Linked DNA regions of Homo sapiens. The protein of the gene in region 2 purifies or fractionates together with the protein of the main gene of each other region. This does not show direct contact. Each region holds a gene or a part of one and is shown on either strand. Other genes may lie near its edges.

What was found.
Region 1: the proteins of TMEM51 (region 2) and GALC purify together in Homo sapiens (affinity purification with mass spectrometry; 3 studies listed by BioGRID and IntAct, with this or other methods). This does not show direct contact.

The regions. Positions count from the first base shown.
Region 1 is NC_000014.9:87,944,438-87,948,187, reverse strand, and holds part of GALC (galactocerebrosidase isoform a precursor), read left to right. Parts: intron 1-309; coding exon 310-460; intron 461-2,454; coding exon 2,455-2,635; intron 2,636-3,750. UniProt on the Homo sapiens protein: Hydrolyzes the galactose ester bonds of glycolipids such as galactosylceramide and galactosylsphingosine.
Region 2 is NC_000001.11:15,212,635-15,216,384, forward strand, and holds part of TMEM51 (transmembrane protein 51), read left to right. Parts: intron 1-2,260; 5' UTR 2,261-2,453; coding exon 2,454-2,797; intron 2,798-3,750.

The DNA.
Region 1 (3,750 bases), on a different chromosome or scaffold from region 2:
CTTTAAGGAGCTTACTGTGTAGTGGAAAAGAATAGGCTAATAGAAATAGATTTTGAGATTATTTAGTCCTTCCTTCCATGAAGTAAGGTTGTTTAAAATTATAAAGCATAATTTTATAAAGTTTTCTAAAATACTTAGGAAAAAAAGATTCCAAGGGCCTTGATATTGGTGAGTTTTCCACAAATGTTTAGGAAGTTCTAACAGAAATGATTTGGACTTTTCTTTAAGCTAATTTTTTTAAAGCTATTCTGTCCACATGAGATGAGCTATAGTACCTGGTCCTGAATACAGTAGTGTCTTCTTTTTCAGCTCCTTGACAGCGATGGCAGTTTCACACTGAGCCTGCATGAAGATGAGCTGTTCACACTCACCACTCTCACCACTGGTCGCAAAGGCAGCTACCCGCTTCCTCCAAAATCCCAGCCCTTCCCAAGTACCTATAAGGATGATTTCAATGTTGGTGAGTATTTTTCACTAAAACTTAACTTGGTCTCTATATTTAACAGTAGTGTGTTGATTTCTACCTGTCAAACTGGGTGCATGATGGAGTGGCTGTCAAAAGCACATTCATTTACCTCCTACATCTCATATGCGGTAAAAGGAGGGCTAATTTTTTGCATTACTTTATGGTAAATCTAAATTTGAGGACCCTGTATTTTTCAGTTTCAGAAAAAAATATAGGGTTCATTGTTAGAATGAAAGTTATAGTTCTGATTTGTTTTTGGTGAAACTTAAACTTTGTAACTTTGCTACTGCCCCATTAGCCATTACTGACATCTTCCTTCTGTGTGGAGGTTAAGACACATTCATATCTGTCTTTCTGCAGTGCTAGTGAACTGAGTGCTTATGGGCAGTTATGTTGTCCTTGGCTGATCCAACTCATTATATACCATCCCGTGCTTTTTTTTTAATTGAGCTTTCTTGGTTTTCTAGGAAGATCTGTCCTAAAGTTGTTAGAAAAGTTTTTGGTTATAGGTGATTTAGGAAAACCACTTGGAAAAAAGTTAGAAGACATGGTCATTGTAGTTATATTCCTAGTGAGTAAGTAACAAAATTTGTTGACTGCTTGGTGGTGTTCTGTAGGTTTATGGGTCTCACAGACAGGGTCAGGTGGCTTTGTAATCTGCTCCTAAAATCTGTAGCAGCAGGAGAGTAATAGGGAGGGAGCTGGCATTGCTGGAGCATCACTTGAAGCTCCTGTTTGCTGCAGAGCTGCTTGTTCCACCAAAGATGGACACTCCTATCACCCTTTCCCAGTCACTGCTACAGGGTCTCGCCTCCCTTTCTCAGGAAATGATCTAGTTGGCTGGAGTATAAGGCCTTTTGGACTGTGTAATGGAGTCCTCTCAACTATAATACAGACAACAGTGATCCTCAGGGGGAGCTTGGTGGTTTGTTTTTCTGCAACTCTTTGAAATGGCCTCTTAGATAAACCCATTAATTTTGTGAAACACAGGGTCTTTAAAATCTGTTGCTCGCTTGGTTCTCTGTTAGCAAAAGTGACTTTTGCCTTCAGTAAGTGAGGAATCTGTGTGGGATATGGCCTAGATAATGAGATTGAAGAACTGCCAGCACCAAGACCAATATTTTGTGACCCTGAAGACTAAGAGGCAATTTCAAACCTTCAAATATAAAATGTAATACTTTATGAGCTACAATATAAATTTAAAACTAAGTTAAATATTATAAGCTAGGCTCTGGAGATACTTGTTAGGGTTCTAAATGTCTCAAATGAGGTAATGAATGCAAAAACACTTGGAAAAGCATGAGGTATAAGAGCTATAAGATATGTAAAATTTCTCCTCTACAGCATTCATTATTGTAAGACTATAATTTAATTTAGTAAAACTAAAAAGGGATTGATAACTTAGGCCCAAAACTGGTTTTTGCTGCAGTTTAGAAGTAGAAGAAAATTTGTAAATTTTATGCTTGATATAGTAAACCTTTCTTATGCTCTTTTGGCAGATGATTGTGACGCATGATTTGGAACCTTGCTTGACAGATATTAGAAATAATAAAGCTATCCCTTATTGAGCCCTTGCCAGGTGCTGGCTTATGTACCTGTTATCTTTTCTTTAATTCTCTTGTCCTCCTGCAAACCTGGAAATGAAGAAACTTTAGATGCAGGGCAGTTAAATAGCTTGTCCAGGGCGACAGACTGAACTCGAATTTGAATCTAGGTCTTACTTCAAAACTCATGACCTTTCCTCTACACCAGATGCCTGGATTAAATATTATGCAGCATCTATATGTCGAACTCATCATCTTGATATTTAGTAATGATGATACAAAAATTAATGTATCTTTATTAGACCTAGGCCCTAAACTTTGGTTTAGATTTTATTTATTTATTTAAAAGCTTTCAGAAGTGTTTCAGACATACTATAAAATATCAGCAAGGAGAGCTTCTGAAGGATTTGATACTAAACAGAGAATTTCTTACATTCTGAACAGATTACCCATTTTTTAGTGAAGCTCCAAACTTTGCTGATCAAACTGGTGTATTTGAATATTTTACAAATATTGAAGACCCTGGCGAGCATCACTTCACGCTACGCCAAGTTCTCAACCAGAGACCCATTACATGGGCTGCCGATGCATCCAACACAATCAGTATTATAGGAGACTACAACTGGTAAGATTGATGTTCTCAATGTGGATCTGGCTGAAATACCCTTGTAATATTGTCAGGTACATTTTGAAGTGAAGAGTTTTCAATGGTCCTCCTATTTCAAGAACCTAATAGATGTGTAATATGTAATATTAAGGGTTGTTGAATAGTATGGTGATGACCACAAAGCTGCAAATTGTTTTGCTGCCCCAGTGTCCTTCCCTCATTTTTGCCCTATTTAATAGTGATTATTACAGGAGCAATTTGATTCCAGTATAAAAACTAAGGACTTTTGGACCCAATTATAATTTAATATTTGTTTATAAATAGACGGATTTGTGAGGTATTTTTAAGTTTTTGTTTTGCTGGAGAGTTGATTTGTTGATCTGGTGTTGCCATCTAGTGGACCAATCTTAGAATTACACCGTCTTAGCCTTATTAAAAGATTTACCAGGTGACAGTAGATGGCAATAGTAAAAAGCTAATCAGCTTTAGTCGCCTAGTGAATTTAACTTTTTATTTAGTCATCTGGTAAAGAGACAAGTTATATTATTCACATAAAATATAATGCCAAACTAAAACTTTCCCTTCCTCTTTAGTTACAGAATTTCTATGTGCTGACTTATTCCACCTGTCATGTGTTTCTTTTTCATTTTTTCCTATAACTAGTATGATTCCACTGTGGGAAAAGAAACACATACACATTCCAGGTTTAGAGCTAGTACTAGTAATACCAAGCCACCAAAAAGCCATATCCGAAGCTTGGAAACTGGAGAGGGAAGAGAAAAGAATTCTGAAAAGAGCCTTGAATTGCCTGTCTATGGAGTGTGCAGAAAGTGTTTATCCCTCCTGAAGTGCCTTACTCCCAGTTAGAAATCCTGATTCTAGTCCCAAGCTCTGACATAAGTCTTAAGAAACTTTTAGTTATCCAGAGCCCCTGGAACCCTTATAACACTATGAAGAGTTATTGAGGTGCAGTGAAGAATTCCTTCCTAATTTAGGATGACATTTGTGGCTTGTGTTTTTACGCAGAATTTCTGCTTGTCCCATTGTCTCTGAGGTGGAAACTTTACCTAGATTTTCCAGTTATGGTAGTGGAGTTCTTGGCATCCTTATTTGTGACTGATGGTCTTATTTTA
Region 2 (3,750 bases):
ATTCCTAAGGCTGCCAGAGCCCCCATCCTTCCTTTTGCCAGCCATGAGTGATACTGTAAGAAATAAATATCCTTGTGTACGGTCCCATCTGGTCCTACCGCAGCTGTCTGCAGTGGGATCCCTGTTCAGCGCCCTGCACGCCACACACATGCCCATCCTACCTGTTCATATTCCATACATATGCATGCATATGTACATAGGTGCTCGCACGCATGCACATGTGCTCATGTGTGCATAAACATATATGCACACGTGTTCATGCCCCAGTGTGCCTTGGTGCTTCTTCTTAACTCCTTCAAGAGCAGAGCCAGTGCGTTCACGCACGTGCACATACACAGTGCTGTGCATTCAGGGTTCAGGCCCAATTAGGCCAGTGGGAATCCTCTCCCACATAGACTTTCTGTATGTCCCACAGCCCTGAGCTAGGACACCCTGCTGTCTAATCCCACAGTTCCTGTACTTCCTTCTTACTTTATTGGTATTCCCTATAGATCATTTTCCTGCTGGCCTAGAAGCTCTGCTAATCCTTAACTTGCTCACTGCTGTTTCTCCAGTGCCTAACTCGCTACTTAGGAGGTAGTGAGATGCACAAGAAATATTTGTTGGGTGAAAAAAAGAAGGAACAGACTTAAAGCTGATAAAGGATGTTGTTCCAAATATTTTTAGAGTCTCTTTTAACAAAGTGGCCAATTTCAGATAAACTCATGGTTTCACAAGAAAATATCTTCGCAGCATCAGATTTCAAGCAGCCTGGTCAGTCATCCTTTCGGAGAGACTGGAAAAAATGCAGAATTGAAAACAGGTCCTTGCCCAGCTAAACATCTTGTAAATTTTACTGTTTTGCAAAAGTTCCTGTCACAGGAATAATGTATGGGGGAGAGGTTTAGCAAGGGGCATTGCTTGCTCCTCCTCCTCAGTCCTTGAGAATGTTCTAAACTAAAGCCTTGAGTGACTGCTTCTCTGGCTCGCTCTCAACCAACAAATGCTGTGGAATCCCAGGACCGCTGGCTGCTCCCTTTAGCGCAGGGTCTCTGGGCTGCTTTGTGGAAAGAAGGTTTATTTTGTCCAGCTGGGCACAGGAGCGGAGAGGAAGAATGTGCAGGCCTGTGTCCCTTTTAACAAAGGGAGAACTCGATGTGGTTTCAGAGAAGCTTGTCTTGCTGGGTGACTTCATGTGGCCTGCATTCATTTCATCCAACATTGACTCTGCAAACTTTTTTTTTTCGAGACAGAGTCTTGCTCTGTCACCCAGGCTGGAGTGCAGTGGCACAATCTCGGCTCACTGCAACCTCCATCTCCCAGGTTCAAGCAATTCTCCTGCCTCAGCCTCCCAAATAGTTGGGATTACTGGCACGTGCCACAGCACCCAGCCTTTTTTTTTTTTTTTTTTGTATTTTTAGTAGAGACGGGGTTTTACCATGTTGGCCAGGATGGTCTTGATCTCTTGACCTCGTGATCCATCCACCTCGGCCTCCCCAAGTGCTGGGATTACAGGCATGAACTCTGCAAACATTTTTTGAGTCCCTGCTGTGTGCCAGGCTTAGAGATGATGACAATGTGGTCATGGGAAGAGAGAGACTCACCACGGTGGTTGCTGGAGGATTTGGGGAGCACATGAAAGGGGCATCTGAGCTATGGGTGACCAGAGAAATGTTCTGGAGGGTGGTTGGGGGTGGGTAGTGCAAAGAAAGGCAGGCTGAGACATGCAGTAGGAGAGGCAGGAGCCAGGCTAAGGCCACCATGAGCAGCATCATTCTAAGAAGCTGGATTTTCTCCTGCAGGAAGTAGGGAGCCATTGAGGGTGGGGAACAGATGACAGTAGGCTGTTTGGCCTGGTCATACCATTGGCTGAGGCCCTGTCCCCCAGGTGAGTCTGTTACAACCATCGATTGTGGACCATTCATCCCATCGCTCACTCTCCCAGCAGCCTCCAGCAAGAGCTACGATTTTACTGCACTTCATTAAATTCCACACAATGTTTTAATGACCTGAGCTCCGACCTTTCTGGCCTCCAGCAGGGAAAGGTCTGGCTTTTCCTTTTCAGGGAGTAGCGGGCTGGGCAGACCGGCCTCCCTTCTCGCAGCCTCGCACAAGGAGCCTGAGCACGTAAGACATCTGGAATGCATCAAAGGCGAGGCCCAGCCAGAGCCGGCGTGCTCGGTGCTGCTGCCTAACTCCTTCAAGAGCAGAGCCGCCACATTCACAAAGCGTCTGGAATCGGAACTGATCGTCCTCTCTGCTCTTTCTGCTTTCCTTCCAGGCCCTTCCACCGCAGCCATCCGCACGGGAGGCCTCGCGATTGCTCGGAACCATCCCGCAGGAGTTCAGCTGATATTTTCTAGTGTGGGGCGAGAGATTTTGTGGAGCGCATTTAAGGGGTTTTTGTTGTGACTGCTGCCTTGTATACATTTATTTTCTTTCTTGGAACTGGGCCTCGCCCTCCTCCCACTGACATGATGGCCCAGTCCAAGGCCAATGGCTCGCACTATGCGCTGACCGCCATCGGCCTGGGGATGCTGGTCCTTGGGGTGATCATGGCCATGTGGAACCTGGTACCCGGCTTCAGCGCGGCCGAGAAGCCAACAGCTCAGGGCAGCAACAAGACCGAGGTGGGTGGCGGCATCCTCAAGAGCAAGACCTTCTCTGTGGCCTACGTGCTGGTCGGGGCCGGGGTGATGCTGCTGCTGCTTTCTATCTGCCTGAGTATCAGGGATAAGAGGAAGCAGCGGCAGGGCGAGGACCTGGCCCATGTCCAGCACCCGACAGGCGCTGGGCCTCACGCCCAGGAGGAAGACAGGTGAGGCCTGACTGTCCCCTTCCCTCCCCGGATCGGGGATGGGCACGCACGCATGCACACACATGTTCACACCTTTCCGTGGTGAAAAGACTGTCATCTACAGGCTTTATTGTCCCATGTTCGCCCATGACGCCTCTGTCAAAACGGTTTATCATTTTACAAATAACTTTAGACTTTTCTACCAGAGCTTCCCAAATAGCATGGTACAAATGGATTACAGGTAAACCAAGATTTTTTAAAAATTTTATTACAATAGATTTTTACACCATGGAATACTATTCAGCCATAAAAAGGAACAAAATACTGTCTTTTGGGCCAGGTGCAGTGGCTCACTCCTGTAATTCCAGAACTTTGGGAGGCCGAGGCAGGTGGATCACTTGAGGTCAGGAGTTTGAGACCAGCCTGGCCAACATGGTGAAACCCTGTCTCTACTAAGAATACAAAAATTAGCTGGGCATGGTGGCACATGCCTGTAGTCCCAGCTACTGGGGAGGCTGAGGCATGAGAATCGCTTGAACCCAGGGGAGTGGAGATTGCAGTGAGTGAGCTGAGATACCGCCACTGCACTCCAGCCTGGGTGACAGAGTGAGACTCTGTCTCAAAAAAAAAAATACAAAAACAAAAAACTGTCTTTTGCAGCAACTTGGATGGAGCTGGAGGCCATTACTCTTAAGTGAACCAGCATTTTGACCCGCCCAGGGTCACTGAACAGGGCCTGGGGTGGCCAGCATATTTGCTTGTCCCTTCACCCCAGCATGCTGTGTGTATGCTTTAATTTGAAATGGCTGGGAAGCAATTTTCCATTTGAGCAAAAATGCCACCAACAAATTTAAAAGATAAGTGATACATTGGGGAAGATATGATAATAGTTGATATCCCTATTATAAAAAGAGCTCTTAGAAATGAATATGTAAGATGAATATACCAATAGGAAACAGACAAAGATTATGAAT